2 separate regions of the Homo sapiens genome follow, and region 1 is linked to region 2. Evidence: fine-mapped expression QTL. A gene starts in region 2. The other region holds a variant in brackets. All regions are shown on one strand. Distances are between the middles of the regions.

Region 1 (17,022 bases), 99 kb before region 2:
CATCTCCGTGGTTCAGGTAGTCCTGTGCCAGGACCTGGAGAAGACGCTGACCCTCAGGTGTTTTCTTTTTTGCTGATAAAGTGTGGGTGAAATGTGTTGGACTTGGTGCATGCTGCAATAATTGCAAATGAGATGATCTGCACATGAATTTTCTTGGTGTGATTTTGTTTGATCTTTCTCGGTGTGGTTCTGTAATGGCAAGAGACATCTTCCTCTGCATCAGAGTATGAAACATCTTAAAAGGCATTGCATGGCTGAAGTGCAGGTCTGTATTTTTTAGAACTAGCTATTTGACAGGAAAGGGTGTAAATCCACATTGTGTTCATTCAATTCCACAAGCATTCATTGAACACCATCTCATGACAAGCCAGTGCCAGGGGCCGTGAATGGGGCTGGAGGCAGACACATTCCCAGGGTGACTTTAGAGTGGCCTCTCCTGTGTGCTCATTTGGAAAATCAGAAGGAAGATGACGCAGGCTTGATTCTGTCCGGCTCAGATGTTCAAGAACATTGTGATCACTTCAGATAATGTTTATCTTATTTATGATGTTGCACAGATGTTCAAGAACATTGTGATCACTTCAGATAATGTTTATCTTATTTATGATGTTGCACTGACACAGACTGTCAAGGCTGAATTCCTACCCTGCCTGTCAACAAGTAAACAAGTCCTTAAGCGGATTATGGGAACTAACTAAGGAGTAATTAGAAGCATTTTGTCAAGTCACTAGAATGGAATCCCAGGGTGGACCCTTTAGGAGAGGGAGAGTTCTTTGATAATGCAAACACATTCTTTAGATTCCAGGTTCCAGTGTGGCTTCTGGGTGGCAAAGTGAGAGGAGCTTGCTTTGGAGAAGTGGAGCTGGCCTTAGGAAGGCGTGTTTGACTCTGTTGACAATTATCAGTCAGGAGCTAGATCTGGGTAGGACAGTTAGAAACACTGACATAATTCTTACTTTGTTTTGTTGGCCTTAAGAATAAAAATTTTAAAATACAGATGATTATTCTATACTTTCAGGTTTATTATCAACCTGTAGCACTCAAAAGCTTTCAATTATTGTTAATATATTTGAGTTAAATATCAAAGTAATAGGCATTACTTACTTTTAGAAAATTGCAACCAATAAGAGGCATTTCATTTGTCGTGCATTTAACTTTTGAGACATAATGAATAGTTTCCTAAAACTTTTCAAAGCTGAATGTTATGGAAGAAACATTCTCACCATAACTCTTAAAAATTGCATATCCTTACAAGTGAATACCATATCAAAATATGAAAATCATTTCAGATATTTATTAACTACTTAAAACTGACAAATGGTAAACAGAAATGTCATTTCTTTCATTAGTACAGAGAAAGCTCCCTCACTCCTCCCAAATATCTATTGTGATGAATTGGTTGATTATTTTAAACAATGTAGTTGCACAAATAGACATTAATGTGAATGATGATAGCATGTCACTTCTGAGGAATTGCATTTAGGAGGTACGTGTATGACAGCTTATGTGTAATCTTCAGGCTTGTATTTATGCCACAAGAAAATAGACTTTCTTCAATGATTCACTTCATCACAGGTGGCCTACCTACCTGAAAGACATCTTCATGCCAAAGTTGGCTGACTTTCTCATGCACAACGAACCCATATTCCCGTAGGAATTGAAGGATATGACTAATCAGTTGAAAACAGTTCTTTCATTTGTTTAACATGTCAAACTCAGGAACAAGCCCCAAGGTTCAAGTTTTACTGAAAGACTTTTACCATAGTGCTTTTTTGACATAGAAAAGAAAAACAGAACAATAAAAAAAAGAAAGTCAACAATTTTTTCAGTGAAGAGACTCACAGAGATTGAAGGTTCTCCGAAAACATTCAGGCCAATGCATCATTTTACATATGAGAAAACTGAAGTCCAGAGGTGACAAAATTTGACAAATCTACATAGCTAAAATGAAACCAAACAGACTCGTAATCCTACTTGGTGCTGGAGGGAGGCTGCAATCTGGGGAACTTGTTATCCAGACATCCCAGCTGGTAGAGTGTGCTACTACATAGATAAAGTCACTGTGGTTAGTGTCTAGCCTCAGCTTTAAAGTTCTGGAAAATCAAATTTGTCAATATTCCCATGGTTATTTAGAGTTAGGGGAACTAATATAAATTCCAAAATATAAATTTATAAAAGAAAATATTGTGACTTTTCTTGTTCTCTATGTAGAACATGCCCATAATCTTCCATAATCATCCTTATGACATGCAGCATCCTTACAATGACTGAGAAGTGGTAAATTTGGAAGCTTCTTAGGTGAGTGTCGAGAGGGCCGAGGAACAGAATAGTCTCGGGACATCTAGTCATCCCAATTTTACAATTGAGCTATAGGCTGATAATACCACTGTCTCTGTTCTCTAAATAAGCATGGCAAAATTGTGGTTTTCTGAATGTCGTTCATCAATAATCCAAGCTGGCTTTTTCACAGTTAGTGTCTAGATAAGGTTCAACAACATACATGTGGTTTCTCATGGTTGTATTTTATTTACATTCTATTCCCCCTTTCAGACCAATCAATCACCTTGATTGAAGTTCTGACTGTGGTCTTGCTAAGAATTCTTCTGGAATATGATCCCTTTTGCTTGTCTCTTCAGCTTGCTTGGCAACTTTCTACCCACTTTCCTCAAAATTCCGAGACATCAGACTCACCTCCAGTTCATCTCCAGTTCATGTGACAGCTGCTGTCCCTGCTGGTGAAGTGGCTGTGCTGTCTGGGGTATACACCCTGGGGTTCATCGTCACACACCAAGAATTCAGGACACAATCACATGTGGGTGGGTTAGGGAGTGGAAAATTTAATAGATAGAAGAAAGGAGAGAGGAGAGCAGCTCTTAGAGAGAGAGAGAGAGAGAGACATCTGAAAAGTGGGGAGGCAGTGGACCAAAACAGATATAATAAGTTGGAGAAGGCGGTGTCTGATTTACATAGGGCTCACAGACTGGTTCCATCAGGTATGACGTCTACATAGTGTGCGGGGGAAGGCTGGTTGCCCCACCCTAATCTAATTATGCAAATAGGCTTTCCAGTTGATCAGAGCCATCTTCTCTGCTCCTTACAATACACTTGGCTGGCAGGGAAGGGAAGATGGAGCCACCAGTTTGAAAATGTCTAGTCCTTAGTTCCTGCTGGCATTCACCTATGCAAGCTCCCAGCTTGCAGGCTGCTCTTTGTTAGAAAATGACTTGGGGCTGCTTTTCATTAAAAAGAAAAGCCTTACCCAGGACTCCCATGCCCTTGCTATCTGCCTAAGCAATTCCTTCTTAACTCCTATATCCCTGGGGAGATGGTAGGAGTGCTGCCCCTGTCTCCTTGCTTGAGAGGGGAACTGCCCCAGGGAACCACCGCCATCTTTCTCTATTGCCTGTGTGACTGCAGCATGGTGAGGTTCTAAGTCCCTGTACCCCTTTTGACTAAGGATGTTTTCCTTCTTCCCCATGATTTTGCTGGAGAATGAGAGGCAGAATTAAAACGTGCTGCATTTGTATTCAGATGTAAAGTTTGTGTCTCTGCAGAAAGCATTGCTTGTGTAGAGAAGGAAAGCATATTGTTTTAGTCCACAGGGGAGCTAGAAATGTGATCAGTCATCAGAATAAGGCAGATGTGTGCTAAATATTTCAGTCACTTATTAGCAGATAATTTATTGGCTTATTATCAAATGTAGCAAATATTTGCCATGTCTGCTTTGGGTTACTTTTTTTGGGAAGCCTTAGGCCGATTTTTGGCAACAGGGATTGAAAACATTTTACCACTTCCCTTACTGAAAAGGCCTTGTTGCCTGGGTGGGTGCCCAAGTCGTTGGTCTCACAGCTGAGGAAATCGACGATGCAGACACACCAAGGACGAGGTCAGAGCAGAAGCAGAAGTTTAACAGGTGAAAGAAAGAGAACAGTTCTCTGCTGCAGAGAGGGGTCCCAGAAAGGGTTGCCGTCCCACAGTAAAATGAAAGGGTTTTTTTCATGCGCGTCCGTGTGAAGAGACACCAAACAGGCTTTGTGTGAGCAACATGGCTGTTTATTTCACCTGGGGGCAGGCGGGCTGAGTCCGAAAAGAGAGTCAGCGAAGGGAGATAGGGGTGGGGCCGTTTTATAGGATTTGGGAAGGTAATGGAAAATTACAGTCAAAGGGGGTTGTTCTCTGGTGGGCAGGGGCGGGGGTCACAAGGTGCTCAGTGGGGGAGCTTCTGAGCCAGGAGAAGGAAATTCACAGGGTTAATCACTCAGTTAAGGTGGGGCAAGAACAAATCACCATGGTGGAATGTCATCAGTTAAGGCGGGGCAGGGCCTTTTCAGTTCTTTTGTGATTCTTCAGTTACTTCAGGCCATCTGGGCGTATACGTGCAAGTCACAGGGGATGCGATGGCTTGGCTTGGGCTCAGAGGCCTGACATTCCTGCCTTCTTATATTAATAAGAAAAATAAAACAAAATTGTGTTGAAGTGTTGGGGCGGTGAAAATTTTTGGGGGGTGGTATGGAGAGAGAATGGGCGATGTTTCTCAGGGCTGCTTCAAGCGGGATTAGGGGCGGCGTGGGAACCTAGAGTGGGAGAGATTAAGCTGAAGGGAGGTCTTGTGGTAAGGGGTGACATTGAGGGGGTTGTTAGAAGAAACATTTGTCATACAGAAAGATTGGTGATGGCCTGGATACGGTTTTGTATGAACTGAAAAACTAAATGGAATAAGAGAAGGAGAAAAACAGGTATAAAAGGACTAAGAATTGGGAGGATCTAGGACATCTAATTAGAGAATGCCTAAGGAGGTTCAGCATAGTCCTTCCAGCGAAGATTATTTATTTACTTCAAGAGTTAAGAGTGGCAGTTTGGGGATAGCATGAGGAGATATCAGCCATGATGGCTTGGAGAAACAGTGTAAACTGGCAGTGTAAACAAGAGCAGGGCATGTATGAGTAGTTGAGAACGGAGAATAGGAGTATGACTAGACGGAAAATAGTAGGGATGACAAGTTTTTTTGGGGGCACAGTCTAAGTTGGTCTGGTGTCTGGGATGAGACTGGGGCCTAATAAAAAGGAGCTTAAATGGACTGTACCTTGTAGCATTCTGAGGACAGGTCTGACTTCTGAGAAGGGAAAGTGGTAAAAGTATTGTCCAGTTCTTTTTAAGTTGGTGGCTGAGCTTGGTGAGGTGTGTTTTTAAAAGACCTTTAGTCCGTTCTACTTTTCTTGAAGACAGAGGACTATAAGGGATATAAACTGAAAAACTGCTTGGCTAATTTGACTAATAAAGCCTGGTCTGTTATCAGACTGTATAGAGGTGGGAAGGCTAAACTGAGGAATTATGTCTGACAGAAGGGAAGAAATGACTGCGGTGGCCTTCTCAGACCCTGTAGGAAAGGCCTCTACCTATCTAGTGAAAATGTCTACTTAGACTAAGAGGTATTTTAGTTTTTGTGACTCGGGGCATGTGGAGTAAAGCTAATTTGCCAGTCCTGGGCGGGGGCAAATCCTCGAGCTTGATGTGTAGGGAAGGGAGGGGCCTGAATGATCCTTGAGGAGTAGCAGAATAGCAGATAGAATAGCAGATGGAACACTGAGAAGTTATTTCCTTGAGGATAGATTTCTACAATGGAAAGGAAATGAGAGGTTCTAAGAGATGGGCTAGTGGCTTGTAATATGGGGAAATGGGGTGAATGTCAGGTGGATCAGAGAGATGCAGTCATGGGGATCAGGTGTGGTATCAGGAATAATGTGGGAGGCCAGATTGAAGTCTGGGCCAGGAACAATGGTAATTGTGGGACTTAACAAAGAATGAGTACAGCTGAAGGAGCCGGGGAGCAGAAAGTATATGCGTCAGGTATGAGGAAGAAAATAGATTTTGGAAGTTATGAGAAATGTAGAGAGTGAGTTGAACATAGTTTGTGATTTTTAGGGCCTCTAAAATTATTAAAGCAGCGGCAGCTGCTGCATGCAGACATGAGGGCTAGGCTAAAACAGTAAGGTCAAGTTGTTTGGACAGAAAGGCTACAGGGTGGGGTCCTGGCTCTTGTGTAAGAATTCTGACCGCACTAACCATGCCTAGGAAGGAAAGGAGTTGTTGTTTTGTAAGGGATTGAGGTTTGGGAGATTAATCAGACACCATCAGCAGGGAGAGCACCTGTGTTTTTGTGAAGAATTATGCCGAGGTAGGTAACGGATGGAGAAGAAATTTGAGCTTTGGAGGGGGATACCCGATATCCTTTGGAGAATAAATGCTGAAGGAGCAGAAGTATGTCTTGTTGAGAAGATTCAAAGGAGGGGCTACAAAGAAGAAGGTCATCAATATATTGAATAAGGTGAGAAGTGGAGGGGTGGAAAGAAAGTAGATCATGAGAAAGAGCTTGGCTGAAGTAATGAGGGCTGTCCCTGGAACCTTGCGGCAGCACAGCCCAGGTAAGCTGCTGAGCCTAATGGGTGTCAGGGTCAGTCTAAGTGAAGGCAAAGAGAGGCTGAGATGAAGAGTGCAAAGGAATAGTAAAGAAAGCATGTTTGAGATCCAGAACAGAATAATGGGTAGTAGAGGGAGGTATTGAGGATAGGAGAGTATATGGGTTTGGCACCACGGGGTGGATAGGCAAAACAATTTGGTTGATAAGGCACAGATTCTGAACTAAGTTGTAAGCCTTGTCTGGTTTTAGGACAGGTAAAACGGGGGAATTGTAAGGAGAGTTTATAGGCTTTAAAAGGCCATGCTGTAGCAGGTGAGTGATAACAGGCTTTAATCCTTTCAAAGCATGCTGTGGGATGGGATATTGGCATTGAGTCGGGTAAGCGTGATTAGGTTTTAATGAGATGGTAAGGGGTGCATGATCGGTCGCCAAGGAGGGAGTAGAGGTATCTTATACTTGTGGGTTAAGGTGGGGGAATACAAGAGGAGGACGCAAAGGAGGCTTTGGATTGGGAAGAAGGGCAGCAATGAGATGCAGCTGTAGTCCAGGAATAGTCAGGGAAGCAGATAATTTGGTTAAAATATCTCGGCCTGATAAGGGAACTGGGCAGGTGGAGATAACTAAAAAAGAGTGCATAAAAGAGTGTTGTTCAAGTTGGCACCAGAGTTGGGGAGTTTTAAGAGGTTTAGAAGCCTGGCTGTCAATACCCACAACAGTTATGGAGGCAAGGGAAACAGGCCCTTGAAAAGAAGGTAATGTGGAGTGGGTAGCCTCCATATTGATTAAGAAGGGGACAGACTTACCCTCCACTGTGAGAGTTACCTAAAGCTCGGTGTCCATGGTGGTCTACAGGGCTTCTGAGGCGATCAGGCAGCGTCAGTCTTCAGCCACTAAGCCAAGAAGGAGTCAGTCAGAGAGCCTTGGGCCAGAGTTCCAGGGGCGCTGGGAGTGGCTGCCAGGTGAGTTGAACAGTCCGATTTCCAGTGGGGTCCCGCACAGATGGGACATGGCTTAGGAGGAATCCCTGGGCTGCAGGCATTCCTTGCCCTGGTGGTCAGATTTCTGGCACTTGCAGCAAGCTCCTGGGGGAGGAGGTTCTGGAGGAATGTCTGGCCACTGCGGTTCAGGCATTTGGAAGTTGTTGTGTGCTGGAGATGTGGCTGGGGTTTGTCTCACAGTGGAGGCAAGGAATTGCAACTTCCTTTTTTTTATTATTGTACACCTTGAAGGTGAGGTTAATTAAGTCCTGTTGTGGGGTTTGAGGGCCAGATTCTAATTTTTGGAGTTTTATTTAATGTCGGGAGCAGATTGGGTAATAAAATGTGTATTGAGAATAAGATGGCCTTTTGACCTTTTAGGGTCTAGGGCTGTAAAGCATCTCAGGGTTGCTGCCGAACGAGACATGAACTGGGCTGGGTTTTTATATTTGATGAAAAAGAGCCTAAACGCTTCTGATTTGGGATAAAGAAAAAGGAGCATTAACCTTGACTATGCCTTTGGCTCCAGCCACCTTTTTAAGAGTAAATTGCTGGGCAGGTGGGGGAGGGCTAGTCACAGAACGAAACTGTAAGCCAGACCAGGTGTGAGGAGGGGAGGCGATAAAAAGATTACAGGGTGGAGGAGCGGAGGCTGAGGAAGAATTGGGACCTAGCTTGGCCTGGCAAGGAGGGGAGAGGTCAGATGGGTCTGTAGAAAAGGAAGATTAGAAAGACTCAGTGACGCTTGGGGTTGGGACTGAGGGGACAGGCGGGAGGGAAAGAAGGAAGATTCAGAATGAGTTGCACTGGGCACAGAGACTAGGAAGGGACTGATGTGTAAAAGAATGCCTGGATGTCAGGCACCTCAGACCATTTGCCCATTTTATGACAAGAATTATTTAGATCTTGTAGGATGGAAAAATTGAAAGTGCCGTTTTCCGGCTATTTGGAACTACTGTAGAGTTTGTATTGGGGTCAAGAGGCATTGCAGAAGAAAATGAGACACTTAGATTTTAGGTCAGGTGAGAGTTGAAGAGGTTTTAAGTTCTTAAGAATACAGGCTAAGGGAGAAGAAGGAGGAATGGAAGGTGGAAGCTTGCCCATAGTGAAGGAGGCAAGCCCAGAGAAAAGAGTAGAGACACGGAGAAGGGGTGGGGGTTTCTTGCCCTCCAGAAAAGCAGAGAAAGGGTTGGGGCACAGAAATAAGGGATTGGGGCACAGAGATAAGAGGTCAGGGTGTGGAAATAAGGGATTGGGGGTTCTTGCCCCCTAGAAAAGTGGGAAGGGGGGTTGGGGCATGGAAATAAGGGATTGGGGCACAGAGATAAGAGGTTGGGGTGTGGAAATAAGGGATTGGGTCACAGAAATAAGAGGTCGGGGTGTGGAAATAAGGGATTGGGGGTTCTTGCCCCCTAGAAAAGCGGGACTTGCCACTAAGGGTGAAGGAGAAGGGGTTGAGGGGTACTTTCCCCTCCCCCAGAAAAGTGGGACTTGCCACTAAGGGTGAAGGAGAAGGGGTTGAGGGGTTCTTGCCCCTGCCCCAGAAAATCAGAGAAGGGGTAGAGACAAGAAGAGAAGGGGTTGGGGTACTTGCCCCTTCCCCAGAAAAGCAGGGAAGGGGTAGAGACACAGAGAGAAGGGGTTGGGGTACTTGCCCCTTCCCCAGAAAAGCAGAGAACGGGTAGAGACACAGAGAGAAGGGGTTGGGGTACTTTCCCCTTCCCCAGAAAAGCGGGACTTGCCGCTAAGGGTGAAGGACCAAGGCAGGCATCCCTGCATGGTCTGACACCCTTGAAACGTGGGTGAATAATCAGAGAGGTGTCCCTGCAATGATTAAACAGCAAGGGAAGGCTGCCTTCCCAGTCCGTGACCAGCGCTGGAGTTTTGGGTCCACAGATAAAACGTGTCTCCTTTGTCTCTACCAGAAAATGAAAGGAATTGAAACTAAGAGAAGGGAGAGATTGAAGTGTGGCGCCAAGATTGAAAGGAGAAAGAGGTTGAGGGATAGTGAGGGAGGTTGGAGAAGAGAGTAAAAAGAGGCGGCTTACTGGATTTAAAATTGGTGAGATGTTTCTTGGGCTGGTTGGTCTGAGGACCTAAGGTCGTAGGTGGATCTTTCTCATGGAGCAAAGAGCAGGAGGACGGGGGATTGATCTCCTAAGGGAGGTCCCCCGATCCGAGCCACGGCATCAAAGTTCACTCGAGTCC[A/G]TGTGAAGAGACACCAAACAGGCTTTGTGTGAGCAACATGGCTGTTTATTTCACCTGGGGGCAGGCGGGCTGAGTCCGAAAAGAGAGTCAGCGAAGGGAGATGGGGTGGGGCCGTTTTATAGGATTTGGGAAGGTAATGGAAAATTACAGTCAAAGGGGGTTGTTCTCTGGTGGGCAGGGGCGGGGGTCACAAGGTGCTCAGTGGGGGAGCTGCTGAGCCAGGAGAAGGAAATTCACAGGGTTAATCACTCAGTTAAGGTGGGGCAAGAACAAATCACCATGGTGGAATGTCATCAGTTAAGGCGGGGCAGGGCCTTTTCAGTTCTTTTGTGATTCTTCAGTTACTTCAGGCCATCTGGGCGTATACGTGCAAGTCACAGGGGATGCGATGGCTTGGCTTGGGCTCAGAGGCCTGACAGTTTTTATAAGTGACCTAGTGGGGAGGCAGTATTTTACCTACATAGGGTGTGAAAAAACAGTTAAGACCAGGTGTACCATCAGCATAGAGTGCGAATCTCTGGCAGCCCCCATCCCAGCCTTTTATTATGGAGGCGGGTCCTTTGCCTGAGCTACTCCATGTTGCTTTCCTACTGTGCAGGTGCAAAAAAAAGAAAAAGAAAAAAAAAAGTGGGAGGCGGAGCCCTCATGGTGCACATGACTGGCCCCAGGTACCCCTTTCTAGTGCGGCAGCTCCCAGCTGCAAGCTTCCAGCTTCCTTATCTATGTTTGCAGCACAATCTTCCAGGCTGCTCTTTGTTAGGAGACACGTGTTTTCTTGGGCTGCTTTTTGTGAGAAAGGAAGTTCTACTGAGGAATTTTGACCTAGCTATCTGCCTAGCTATTCTCTTTTTACTTCCTCGCTCACTATGGGGTCCAGCCAAATCCAGTGGCATTGGGAATGGAAAGGAAGCAAGAATGGCAGATTATGTGGGAAGGTTTCCAATCAGCTAATTGGACTTAAGGGACAAGGGAGAAGTCAAAATAATGATGGAAATGATGGCCAAGGGAAGGGTCTTATTGTTAAAGAAAGCTCTGGGAAGGGAGATAATAGGTGTTTATAGCTATTTCCTGAGCAATCTCTGTTAGCAGGAAAATTCTCTGAAGCCATGTGAAGGGAGGCAGTTGCCAGTGAGGGGAGTTGGTGAGAAATGCCAAAGCCCCCTGGATTAGATGAAGAAATTGTATTCTCCACAAGTTATCTTTGAAAGATGACTTAGTGTACATGATTGGGAATTATATCTTGATAAGCCCCTTGGTTGGTTCTGGGAGTGATTCCTTCAAGGGGAACGCTTGGGAAATAATATATAATAGTTAAATATTCTGGTAACTTCATGGGCTTTATTCAGCTGAGTGGGCATATGAGTGTGGGGATATCAAGGGTTTAGGACAATAAGGTGATCAAAGCACTGACTCGGTGGTCTTTTAATTCCTCCATTCTGTTCTTCCCTGTTCAGTGCTTAGCTTCTCTTAATATACATTTCACAAATATATTTATTCTGAGGAACTAAATTATTAGCCTGACTAGGTGTTCAAATGTTTCCATATAGGCCTTTCTGTTCCTTTATCTGGGATTACAGGCATGAGCCACAACACACAGCTTAACCCCTGTGTGACTATCTAGTCCATAGAACTTCAGAAAGTACAACCAAATAGGGTGAAAGTTCAAGTCTTGCGTCCTCTATAATCCTATCTTGCACCCTGTCCCTCACCAAATATTTTGAAGCAAATCCCAGACATCATATCATTTCCTCCATAAATATTTCAATATACATCTCTGAAAGTTTAGACCTCTTTCAAAAGGTTAATTTCCATATGATTATCATACTTAAAAATTAAAAATTATTCCTTAGGCAGGGCACAGTGGCTCATGCCTGTAATCCCAGCACTTTGGGAGGCCAAGGCAGGTGGATCATGAGGTCAGGCATTTGAGACCAGCCTGGCCAACATAATGATACCCCACTCTACTAAAAATACAAAAAATTAGCCAGGTGTGGTGGTGGGTGCCTGTAATTCCCGTTACTAGGGAGGCTGAGGCAAGAGAATCGCTTGGACCAGGAAGGCAGAGGTTGCAGTGAGCTGAGATCTTGCCACTGCATGACAGTCTGGGCGACAGTGCAAGACTCTGTCTCAAAAAAAAAAAAAAAATTATTACTTAATACTATTTTTTTTTAAAGTTGAAGTCTTGCTTTGTTGCCCAAGTTAGAGTGCAGTGGGGGCACTCTTGGCTCACTGCAACCTCTGCTTCCCAGGTTCAAGTGATTCTCCTGTCTCAGCCTCCCAAGTAGATAGGATTATAGGTGTGCACCACACGGTTGGCTAATTTTTGTATTTTTGGTAGAAATGGGGTTTCACTATGTTGCTCAGGCTGGTTTTGAACTCCTGACCTCAAGTGATCCGCCTGCCTTGGCCTCCCAAAATGCTGCGATTACAGGCATGAACCACTAAGCCCAGCCCCTTAATACTATTACATATCTACTAAGTGTTCTAATTTTCCTGATTCTCTTTTCTTCTTTTACAATTTGCCTGACTCAGAAGTCCCAAAGAGATCTATACCTTGCAGTTGATTGATTTATCTTTTAAACCTCTTTTTTTTTTTTTTTTTTGAGATGGAGTCTCGCTCTGTTGCCCAGGCTGGAGTGCAGTGGCGCGATCTTGGCTCACTGCAAGCTCCACCTCCCGGGTTCACACCATTCTCCTGCCTCAGCCTCCCAAGTAGCTGGGACTACAGGTGCCTGCCACCACACCTGGCTAATTTTTTGTATTTTTAGTAGAGATGAGTTTTCACCATGTTAGCCAGGATGGTCTCGATCTCCTGAACTTGTGATCCACCTGCCTCTGCCTCCCAAAGTGCTGTGATTACAGGCATGAGCCACCGTGCCTGGCCTAAACCTCTTTTAAGATATAGAACTTGTTGGCTTTTTCCTTGCATTTTATTGGTCGAAGAAACAGGTTGTTTGTCCTAAAGAAATTTTTACAGTCCAGATTGTGTTGTGTAATTCCTTTGAAACCTGAATTTCTTATAAACTAGTAAACCTAAACTTTTAGTAGGATTTGGGTTTTATTTACTGTATTTTACTCTGTATTCAAAAATACTTGTAGGCAGAATTATATTTGTTATTAGGAGGTGTACATTGTCTAGCCATCTCTTTTCTTTGTAAAGGTAGATGACTAATCTGACTAAATACATAAAAAAAAGAGAGTTACAAAATGGTGATGTCTTAATGTGATCATTTCTTTTAAATTTATTGTCTGTAGTGTATCTACAAACAATGCCTTTCCATTGTATATTATATGTTTACTTTGAGGTAGAATTATTATAGGAAAAGCAATGTAAGTTCTTGGTTATATCCTCTTATCCACTAGTTTTCAAAACAATAAATTGTTTTCCTTTCACTCTCTGAAGATGATCACTGAAATTTGACTTAAGTATTTGATATGGTTTGGCTCTGTGTCACCAACCAAATCTTATCTTGAATTATAATAATCCCCACACATTGTGGGAGTGACCTTGTGGGAGTTAATTGAATCTTGGGGGCAAGTTTTTCCCATGCTCTTCTAGTGATAGTAAGTCTCATGACATCTGATGGTTTTATAAAGGGGAGTTCCCCTGCACATGCCCTCTTGCCTGCCACCAGGTAAGACGTGCCTTTGCTTCTCCTTTGCCTTCTGCCATGATTGTGAGGCCTTCTCAGCCATGTGCAACTGTGAGTCCATTAAACCTCTCTTCTTTATAAATAACCTCATCTTGGGTATGTCTTTATTAGGAGCATGAGAACAGACTATTACAGTATTATTATAAACACATGAATTTACATGCTTAATGTAATTTATTTCATTTGTTAATCTTATTTGTGGCCAAATTTGCCCTCCATTGGCTAATGAAAAACTCTTGAATGTGGCTGTTGAATTATTTGCTCACGATTTCAATAGACTTTGTTAGCTTCTTACTGTCTGGGAAGAACAGACATTTCAGACTCATCTTTAACATTTTCTTTCTCAAGCTGAAAGCAATTATTTCACCAAGGAATTCTGGTTCCTTGCAGTGGGAAATCATATTTAGAGACCATGATCTTTGTGCTAGAGGTGCTAATTGCTACCGAGTTAGTCACTGTTTCTAGACTTTTCTAGAGGACAAAGCTAAGAAACACACACGCACATGCCCACACACAATGTATTCATAAAGATGATATACAATGTGAATTCATATTGATTACTAATTTTAAATACAATTTAAGACTACAGGTTATTATTCATCTCATCAACCTTACATCCGTATCTCATTCCTTTCATGGTGAAAACGCCAATCCTCAATGATAATAGTTCATTTGATTTATCTCACGATAATTACTCATTACATACAGAAAATAATGACATATTCTCAGAATAGTTATATCACTTCTGTCACAAATAATGTGATTATTGAAAAGAGTTGAAGATTGTTCTTCAGGTCTTTAGTATCTAACCCAATAGGGGGTATAGTAAATCAATATTCTTTAAAGTTACTTGAAATTTTTGTCTTTTTGTGAATATGCTACTAACCTGATAAACAGGTTCATTATTTTTTATTTGCTTTTGATTTTAAGAATGGCCTTTGTAATTTTAATTTTATTTAATATAATGTTAAGCATTTACATGAGTTATTTGTCAAATGTACAAAACAATGTATACTCAGGGAAGACTTGCTTCTATTCCTTTCTCTTGTATGTATTTAACCCTCTGTAGGTACAAATTTTTTAAGTTATTAAAATAAAACATGTTTTCTGTAGATATATATGTATATATACACACATACTCTTCTTAGTTAAATATTCTACACATTGAAGCTTCTAGAAGTATTCATCTTTTATTTGTACAGCTCTATAGTACTCTGTTGTGAGGACATAGCATAGTTTATTGAAATATTGGAAAACATTGTTCTTGCACCCTTTCTATTAGTCATAATGCTGCAAGGAATATAGTTGCACACCTCTATTTTTCATATTTTTGCCATGTACTTTTAGGATAGATCTCTGGAAATGAGATTGCTGGGTCAAAGATAAATGCTTAAGTCATCCTGTTACACATTTCCAAATTCCCTTTTTATAAGATAAGGTCATTTTGTATTTCTATCAATGTATGAGATTGTCTGTTTTTCTCCAGCTATTTTGCTTTAGTTTCCTCTTATTTTGCTAGTGTAGAGGAGGAATATGGCATCACAAAATTAGGGAGAATAAGTATCACAATATGTTGAATTGAGAAAACTTCTCATTCTAACAGAACCTATAAATCCTCAATTGTCTCTTGAGAAGAAGACAATACGTGCAGAAAGCATCACTAAAGATTTTAACTTTTTCATCGTCAGACTCTGAAAGTCACTCGTTAGAAGTCTGATCTAGCAATATCTCACGTGATTAATTAGTAATCTGGTATCAGCCAGTAAAGGCAAAAGCTACTTGCCTTCACTTACAAAATATGTCTTGCAGGTAAAAACATTTTAGTTATTTTGTATGCTAAGTCTGAATTCATTTTTTCTCATGTATGTTGTTAAGATGCCTGGAACAGTCATTTGTTGAGGTTATGTTTGGCCAGGTAGAGCTATTCATTTATTTTAAGATGTGTTTCTGAAGTATGGCTGTCATCTGATTGGTGTACCTACTCAAATTTCTCATAATGCAAACTGTTCCTTCCTGGTTGGCATTCCTCAAAGTTCACAAAATGACAACCAATTTCGCAAAAGGGTCATGTTCTAGATTCAAGTAGGACACATTCCACTAGAAAACAAAGTAAATTGTTTTTAAAGGAGGCTTGATAAAGAAATAAAATTTCCAGGTAATATGACATACAAGTGTTATATTCACATAACATTACACTTTTAAGCATTTGGAAAATGGAGACTGGTTCTTCCAGTCATTCATTCATTTATTTGTTATTTATTTATTTATTCAGCAAGTATTTTTTTAAGTATTTTTAAGTCCCAGTTATGGGCCAGTGTTATGGGAATTGTGTTAACTGAAGATACAAGACTAACCAAAGTAGACACAGTTATTAGCCACATAGAGTCAAACATTAAGAAATACTATTGAGATTAAGTCATAAATAACAAAATAGCAATAATTTGGATGAAGATCTCTGCACAAGTCACTGTTCAGTCTACCTCTGTCCCTTTGTTGAAGAGTTGCTTATATGTGCTGGCTCATTACTTTCTTTCATTTATGCCTAAATCCACTCAAAATTCTTTTCCTAAGATCTCCAGTGGGCTTCTGGTTCTGGCTAAAATGTAGTAACTGGTACTGAACTAGTCCTCCGGACATAAAGAGCTAGAGAAACTGAAAAAGAAATGGTTTTTAGACATTAAACAAAAGGCAGCATAGGAATATAATCCATGGCAGGAAAAAACTAATGTGGTGGGCCCTGGATGCCTTGGCTTTCTGCCTGGATAGTGCTTCTGGACCAAGGCCCCTGAAGAGGCAGCCTAAGCAGAACTTGGAGTCTCACTGAGATGAGGTGATAGAGATCAAAGTTCAGAAAGACTGAGAATAAAGGTACTTGCACAGGAAATGCACAGTTGAAATTTTTGGGGCAGGGTACTAGAGAGGAAGGGCCAAGCAGAGAAGGAGCTTCAGAATCTACTCAGAGTTTTCCCTGAGTCTTTGTCTGAATAGTAACCTGAACTTGTGTAGGGTACAGAACAACTATCAAGAAAAGATAACTGTCATGGAACTACAAACACAAACCACTGGAGCTCATGTAGAGCTGGGAGACATTTGGGCTCCAGCTAGCCTGAATGGAAAGACCAGGGCATTCAGTAGAGGCTCCACAAAGGCCACATCTTAAGTGCAGGGCTCACCTAGCCCCAGAGCAAAAGCTATTCTAAACCTTCTCTAACAAAGCTTAAAAACATCCTAAGAAAGACTGTAAAGGTCAAACATCCTCAAAGAGATTAATCTCCTTCCAGAACAAAGTACAGAGTATTTTAAAGGAAGACAGGAATCCAGACATTGAACAACAGTGGTGATGTCAAATATCCAATTAAAATTACTAGACATGTGGGGAAGCAAGCAAATGTGACCCTACCAAGAAAAAAAATCAGTTGATAGAAACAGAGCAGTGACTTTCTAGTTACCAAAGCTAATGATTTTAATTTAGTTGTGATCATCCTATTTGATCCATTTGGGAGGTACTTTGCTGATGATTACTCTTCCCCTCTCTTGGCATCTGTAACACAGAACATCCCTAGTTCCCTGACATTTCTACAAACCCACCTTCTCACTTCTTTATTGGCTCTTGTGTCTGCCTTATTTCTTTTTTTCTTTTTTTGAGATGAAGTCTCATTCTGTCACCCAGGCTGGAGTGCGGTGGTGTGATCTCGGCTCACTGCAAGCTCCACCTCCTGGGTTCACACCATTCTCCTGCCTCAGCTTCCTGAGTAGCCAGGACTAC
Region 2 (8,000 bases):
ATGTTTGTTCAATTTCTATAATACTGACGAGGCAGTTTTTCTGACTCTGCCCTCTGTATGGGATTTACTGGTTCCTCCGTAACAAACAACATTGTTTCAATCAGCAAATGCTTACTCAGGGCCTAAGTATAAAGGGTATTGTGCTGGATGTTTTAAAAATCATGGGGAAAGTTCCAGGCCCCCAGAAATTCATGGCGCTCACAAGAGTAGATCAGCATAAATGTGTCAAGTTGCTTTGAAAGATTGAATTTCCAATTGAAATAATTTTCCTTTTGCACGCATAACTCTTGAGATTTTCAAGTGGTTTTTACTTAATGACAGCATAGAACCAACTTTATTTTAAAAATTGTAAGTGTGTTAAGGGAGAACACAGAAATCTGTGTTGCAGGCTTTGGCCGTACACACTATGTGTTACATGCTGAAGTTTAGAACCCTGATACTCCTAAAGAATTTATATTATTAATTTCATGGATCCTATTTCACAAACATCTCCATTTTGGTCTAGAGGGTTTCTGCTTGTTTCCTTGGTTTTTGGTTATGTTTTGATATTTAGAGTATGACTTGCCGTTTTTATTATTATTATTATTAAGTTTTTTAGGATCATTTCCGAAGCTGTAGTTTTTGCCTTTTGCCTCAAAACACAGAAAACTTAAATATTTTGGTGAAGAGAAGTTCCCTTTCTCCATCTCTTTCTTCCTCCTTTTTTTTTTAAATTGCAGAATTGTAACAACCACACAAATAAAATAAAGAAATAGAACACTGGCAGCTCTGCGGAAGCTCCTGTAGTCATCTCTCCAAATCGCTACTGGCCTTCCCCTCCAAATGAAATTGCCATCCTCACTTTGTGGCAGTCCGTTCTCCGAGCACCTCTTCCTTTTCAGGCGGGTCTGTAATTCTAGAGTGTGTGTAGTAGTATTGCCCTGGAGTCTTCAGTTACATTTCTCTAGTTACTAATGAGGTTGGACTCCATTAAAATTGTTTTTCTAAGTGGTATTCACATATTCTGTCCAATTTTCTTTTCAGCTGTCTTTTGTTTTTAATTTAAATAAACGTTGAATATTAGCCTTTGTTGGGTAAATGTGTTAAAAATATTTTCTCCCTATTTATGTTTTTTTTTTTCTTTTTTCTTTATGGTTAAAACTTTTGTGTCTTGCTTAACAAGCCCTTCTTTCCTTTTATGAAGTAAGAAAGATACTCTCCTATTGTTTCTTCTATCCATTTTATGATTTGACATTTGACATACAGATCTATAATCTATCAGGAATTGTTGTGTGTATAGCATTAGGCAGAGTCGAGTTTCACTGTTTGCTCCACATGGATAGCAATCAATTATTCTTCCCCAGTGCTCTCACATGCCAATTTTGTCATAAATTAAGTGGCTAATTATGCAAGCTGGAGTAATATTATTTTCTTTCTCCTTCCTTCCTATTCTCTGAAAGCGTGTACGTGACATTGGAGTTATTTAATCCTTAGAATTTTGGAAACATTTAGTGGAGAAACCATCTGATTCTGGAATTTTCCTTGTAGGAAGGCATTCAATTACAAATTCCATTAATTTAACATTTACGGTGTTATTTAGCTTTCCTACTTCTTTTGTCCATTTTCGTTAGTTCTTTTTTTTTTAAGAATGTATTTGTTTATGTAAATTTGTAAATTTATCTTGGTGTAAAACTGTTTGTAATATTCTCTTACTATTTTTAATTTCAGCCAGATCTGTATTGATGTCCCCTTTTCAATCTAAAATCTGTTATTTGTGCCAATTTTCTCTATTTCTCTATCCCCTTGCAAGAAAATTTTCAATCTTATTGTTTTCAAAGATAATTTTTTAAAAGATAAACAACTTTCTCTTTCCTTCCTTTCTATCCCTTCACATTATTTTATTTGTTTTATATTTCAATAACTTATGTTCTTATTATCACTATCATATCTTTCCTTCCATTTTCATAGTATTTAGTTTTTGTTCTGTTTCTAATTTCTAGACCCTTTTAACACTCATCGTATTTGTTCTCTTGTGATGCAAAGGTTTGAAGCCATACATTTCCATTTCTTAAGAGATCTTTTGCAGTAACATGGATGGAACTGGAGGCCATTATCTTAGGTGAAATAACTAAGACACAGAAAGAAAAATGCTACATGTTCTCACTTATAAGTGGGAGCTAAATAACGTGTACACTTGGGCACAGAGTGTGGAATAATAGACACTGGAGACTCAGAAGGGTGGCAAGGTGGGAGGATGGGATGGAATGAAGCATATGAAACGACTTAATCAGGACAATATATACTATTCAGTTGATGTGGACACTAAAAGCCCAGCCATGGCCACGATGCCATACAGCCACATATTGACCATACCGACACTGTACCCGAGCCCCTTCCACTCATACACAAAAGACATTAGACATGTCCTAAAAGTTCTGTTGTCATATTTGCATTGTCATTAGTTAAAATATTTTGCTTTTTAATTTATTTTGTGATTTCTTCTTGAATACATTGATTACTTAGAGATTTTATTTTATCTTATTTTTTTAGACAAAGTCTGGCTCTGTCACCCAGGCTGGAGTGCAGTGGCGCGATCAGGGCTCACTGCAAACTCCGCCTCCTGGGTTCAAGCAATTCTCCTACCTCAGCTTTCCGAGTCGCCGGGATTAAAGGCATATACCACCAAGCCCAGCTGATTTTTGTATTTTTAGTAGAGATGGGGGTTTCACCATGTTGGCCAGGCTGGTCTCGAACTCCTGACCTCAGGTGATCTGCCTGCCTCGGCCTCCCAAAGTGCTGGGATTGCAGGCGTGAGCCACCGCGCCTGGCCTAGAGATGTAATTTTTGACGTTCAAATATATGAGCACTGTTTTTGCTGCTTTTTAATATTTGCACATTGTATCTTTTTCTTTTCTATCCCTTTACATTTACTCTTTCAGAATCCTTATGTTTTACTGTTTTCAGAAAACTTAGTTTTTAAAATATTCTGCTAATCATTTTTCATATAAGTTTACATTAAATAAGCCTTTTAAAGTTTATTATAATTAAATAAAGTTTATTTTCACATGTGTTTTCATATCTACTGTCTCAGAACTTTCTCCTTGCCCTATTTTTCCTATTTTATCCCCTTTTTGCATCTTTTGAGTTGACTTTTTATGATTTTATTTTTCTCTCTTTACTAGTTTGGATATTATCTACCCCACTAATATTCTTTCAGGGGTTACCTTTGAGGTTACAACTGGCAAGGTAGGTTTATCAGTGTATAATATTAAATATTATTTTACCCCTCCAAATTTTACTGCCTTTTTAGTTATTCTTTATTCTTTCCTTTATCTCTAAGCATTCTGAGTCTGTCAGTGTTTAATTCCTTTCATTTTTATTTTTTTTCCTAAAAATATCCTTAACTCCCTTTCATTATTACAGGAATTTTTGGGGGGCAGTTATTTTATTTGAGCATGTTAACTATGTTATTTCATTGTCTTTGGACTTCAGTTGCTACTTTTCGAAGATAGTACATATTTTTACCTCTAACTGCTTTTAAAATTAATTCTCGGTCTTTATTTTATAGGTGTTTTACTATGATACACCTAGGAAAGTTTTATGTATCCTACTTAGGCTTTGCAAAGGTTTCTGTTTCATTTTTACAAACGTTGGATTGATTATGGTGTAATTTAGAGACAGTGAGATTCACCTTTTTTAGACATACACATCTGTGCATCTGCAGACATGAGCACTCCAGGTTGTCTATAACACCACATGTCCTTCTGAACTTCATCTCCTGCCATTACGCCCAGCCTCCAGCAACCACTCAGCTGTTTTCTGTCTCCAGCTTTGCTTTTCCCCAAATGTTACATAAGCAGGATCACACTTAGTCTTTTGATTTTTTTTTTTTAACCTCAACACAATGCTTTAGCCATCCCTTTTTTTTATGATGCTCATTATAGTTGATCACTCTTATTTATTGCAGGCTTCATCCATGTGCTAGTTCAGCCTGTGAGATGCTGGTGAGCCCACCTCCAGGCACTCACGGACTCCCCACCCATTGAGTGTGGCCTGGATTTAGTGACTCAATCAAACGTGACAGAGTGCTGGGGTGTCATTTTCAAGACTGGGTTATGTGAAGACTGCAGCCTCCATCTGGGGTGCTCTCTCTTGGATTGCTTGCTCAGGGATGTGGGGAGAGCTGCTGTGCTGGGAGGCTGCCCATGTGAGTTGACTTGGATGTGAACCTTCTGTGGCCTGCCAATAGCCACGTGAGTGACCTTGAAAATGGATCAGCCTTCACTCAAGTCTCAAGATGACTGTGGTCTTGGCTGACAGCTTGATTGCTGTCTCATGGGGGACCTTAAACCAAAGGCACCCTGCTAAGCCACACACAGCTTCCTGGCCCACAGAAACTATGAAATAATAACCATTTCTTATATAAGCCTCCAAGTTTTGGGAGTAATATTTTGCACAGTGATGGATCACTAATACAAGCCAGTCATCAGTTGAAAGACACTGAATTTATTTCCAGTTTTATGTGATTATGAATAATGTCACCATATGCATTTGCATACAGGTGTTTGTGTGGACACTGCTGTCATTTCTCTTGGGAAGATACTGAGGAGTCAGATTGCTGGATCCCGTGAAGAATGTATGTTGAATGTTATAAAAATCTGCCAACTTAAATCTGTTTCCTGGTGCTCTTTCGTCAGCATTGGGAGATGCTCTAACATTTCTCACCAAGTCTTTCTTCTGCTCATGCGCTCCCTCTTCTTTCCCTAAGACTTCAATCATCCTCCTCATTGCCCTTTATATCTCTAAACCATTGTCTGGAGTTTCCATTCTTCCCTTTTGCTTCAATCTGTTTCATTCTGGGGATTTTCTGAGTTATCTTCCACTTCTCCAGTTATTTTTTATTTGTTTTGTTTTTAAACAACTATATCTAATTAAATTTAACTTTATCCTCTGTTGTACTCAATTTTATTACTGCATTTTCCAATTTCAGAATTTCCATTTGACGATTTCCTTATAGTTTCCTATTTCTGCTGAAATTCTCGTTGTTTTATTTCGTGGGGGGCTGAGTAAACATACTTATTTTAAGGCATGTGTCTTTGAATTCCAACCTTTTGAATCCCTGTGGACATATTGCAATTGGCTGCCGTCTCTGCTTTTAATTTTTTATCTTATTTTGTGTGCTCCTATGCCTGGTTATTTCTAACTGTGTTGGACTTTGCATTTGAAAAATGGTTTCTATGAATGTTTTGAAGCCTAGGATGCTATTACTGCCCTTTGGGGAAAATGTACACGTGTTTCTCCCAGGTACCTGTAGGCCTGGTTACATCTGGGCAACTCAACATGGTTCTTGGTTCTGGTTCACTCTGACTCTTGGGAAGAACACTTGAAGGCCCCACCCCAAGGCCTTGGTGGGGCCACGACTCAGTTTCTTGCCCTGTAATTTGAGAAGGCAGTCAGAAGCACAACTTGACTTCTTAGCTGCCTTCTCTGAACAATGTGGGTACCCTTATGTCCCCATGAGCCAAGCTTCAAGTGTGGGCTTCCTTGCTTCGGCTCACCTTGCACCCCACTCCCAGGTCTTCAACTGCTTCCCAGCATTTCAGCATCATGATGGTTCTCCCACGCCTCTAATTAGACTAAACAAACATGCTTTTCCCAGCCCTGCGGGAGGCCCTCAGGAATAGTTGGTCTGAGTCTTCCCATCAGTTATTCCCAGACGCCTTTGTCTTCTTTTATTTGTGAGAGAAAATACTTGCGTGATCCTCAGCTTTTGTACCTGCAATCAAGCCACTTTCTAAATGTGGCACTCATTGATGTACTTAAAATACCTGAAGCCAGTCTGGCACTTATCATTTCTTTAATATTATTTTCCTTCACATTTCTTAGTTTCCAGAATAATTTTTTAATTAAAAATATTGGTAGAGAATCTATTGCCTTCTTCTGCTCAGTATAAGACTAATTTTGGACCAGTTCTTTTAGATTAACACTCCATAAAATTTCGGAAAAGTCAACAAGGAGTGAATAGAATTCCAATTCTTTAACTGAAGCAATCATATGCTGACAATAATACTTGCAGGGGAGTTTCATGGTTTATATTCTATTTTCCAGTTCTTAACCCTACTTCATTTTCATATTTTAAATCCATTCCTCCCAGAAAGTTGATACAGCCTAAAACTTTTGTACATTTACTTCTGAGTTTAAAAAGTGCTTACCATTTGAGATGGAATTTCCATTTTCAGCAGTTATAGCACTAGATAGTGAATTAGATAACTGAATTCCATGGTTATTTGCATTTCTGTCTTGAGTCTCGGAAGTAATTTCTGACGTACTAGGGTCATCTCGGCTACTTATGTTCATGTTAGTTTCAAAACCTAAAATAAATTTTAGAAAACATAATTATTTTCTGATAACATGTACTGAATATACTGAATAAAACATTTGGAGAAAATAATAAAACATCAAATCAAACATTCATGACATTTAAAATAATAATAATCTTTAATAAAATTTGTAGCCTATATAATATTCACCAAATTTTGCCACAACAATGTCAAACAAAAAGGAAAATGTCAAGTGGTAACAATAATTTGTTGCATTCAAACATATTTATAAAGAATTTTTGATGTCATAGATCAAATAACTTGTCATTATAGTATTGCCTGTCATGAGAAAGCAATGAGTTCATGTTTCAGGAGTTTTCTGAATGATTACATTTAAATAAATTAAGGCAATCTTACAGCTTTGGAAAAAATAAGAAACACTTGAGTGATAAGAAACACTATAGTGATATTTTCAACATCACTATAAACACTTTTAGTGTCCATGTTGGAATACTGAACTTCAATACTCGACTTCCGCATTCTGCACACTAAGATAATTACTTAAATATGTAATGCTTGTCCTATGTTAAGTGTTTTGAGAGGTACGAACACGAAAGCCACTGTCCAAATTCCACTGAAGGGCCTGATGAAGACTTTTTAAAGTGATGTAATATTAATAAAGTGAAACACAGCAAATGCTTCTATTTGGAAAAATGTCCAATGGAGGTAGGTTTCCCCATGGTCACTGCATTACCCTTAGGCACAAAATCAGACTTTGCAAATCAGGCACAACTGCCATCAAGGGGCCAGACATCCCCCCATCACCACCTCTGCCAAGTTCCCTTTCTCTGACTTCACAGGTGCACCTGGGATTGGCTCTTGCTTCCTAAGGAACCTCAAAAAAGCTGCAACCTATTGGAGACTTTTGATTCAGCATCAAGGATATGCGTGAGACTTTGGTTCTTTTCTGTTGGGACACAGTTGATTCTGACTGTCTTAAAGTTAGGCTTTTCTAAAGATTTAGACTAATAAATTATTTGAATGGGACAACACACATCATTTGCTTTATTATACTTTAAATATGGCAGAACGGTGTATTACCACCCCAATCCCAATCACCGGTACCTCCATAGGCAGAGATGTTATCCTTATTTTGCTGAAGAAGGAATTAGGGTTACTCAGAGTCATGCAGTTGGAAAGAGATAGAATGGAACTTTAACCTGTATGTTCTGATTATTATTCAGTCTTTATTTTTCATTAAAAGACAAATTGGATTATGTCATTTCCATGCTGAAAAGTTTTGGATAAACTGCTGTTGGTTGCAATCTACAGAAAGAAGGTAGGAAGGAGACAGGGAGGGAAGGAGGGAGGAAGACAGGAAAACAATGAAAGAAAGCAAAAAAGGAAAGAAAGGGAGGGAGGGAAGGAGGGAGGTGGGAGGGAGGGAGGGAAGGAGGGAGTGGGGAGGGATGGAGGGAAGGAAGGAAGGAAGGAAGGGAAGGTTCCATCTCCCCAGAGCTTATCTCTCAAGGCTGGTCTTGACTTGGTCCCTCTTAACTCCTACCTTGACATTATCTCCTCTTGCCTCTCGAGACATACCCTCAAATAGCACTACAAGCAATGCATGTTTATCCAAATTCTCCATATTGACTCCTGTTTTCTTGCTTTGGTGCACTCAAGCCCTCTCCCGCATCAACCCCA

Which allele goes with the higher level. Positions count from the first base shown, and alleles are read on the strand shown. Sizes are in standard deviations (SD) of each study's normalised expression.
For the expression in esophagus muscle of the gene that starts at base 3,948 in region 2, allele G in region 1 goes with a lower level than allele A (moderate effect, 0.72 SD a copy in GTEx).

The links. PIP is the estimated chance that this variant, and not a neighbour inherited with it, causes the effect.
Region 1: its variant is fine-mapped to the expression of MYO16-AS1 in esophagus muscle (GTEx, PIP above 0.99). The same link has a PIP of 0.9 or more in testis.

What each region holds. Positions count from the first base shown.
Region 1 is chr13:109,258,089-109,275,110 of GRCh38, reverse strand. LINC03061 (long intergenic non-protein coding RNA 3061) reads right to left here and starts at 9,624. Exons shown (of 2, transcript NR_185883.1): 1 at 9,444-9,624; 2 at 4,036-7,500. It overlaps LOC130494219 (a long non-coding RNA gene), which reads right to left and starts at 2,908. Exons shown (of 2, transcript NR_185888.1): 1 at 2,692-2,908. RefSeq lists enhancers at 3,636-4,364, 6,882-7,840. The variant A/G (reference allele first, on the strand shown) is at 9,604.
Region 2 is chr13:109,163,251-109,171,250 of GRCh38, reverse strand. MYO16-AS1 (MYO16 antisense RNA 1) reads left to right here and starts at 3,948. Exons shown (of 3, transcript NR_047700.1): 1 at 3,948-4,232; 2 at 4,541-4,615; 3 at 7,160-7,346. MYO16 (myosin XVI) reads right to left here. Exons shown (of 35, transcript NM_001198950.3): 33 at 6,192-6,350.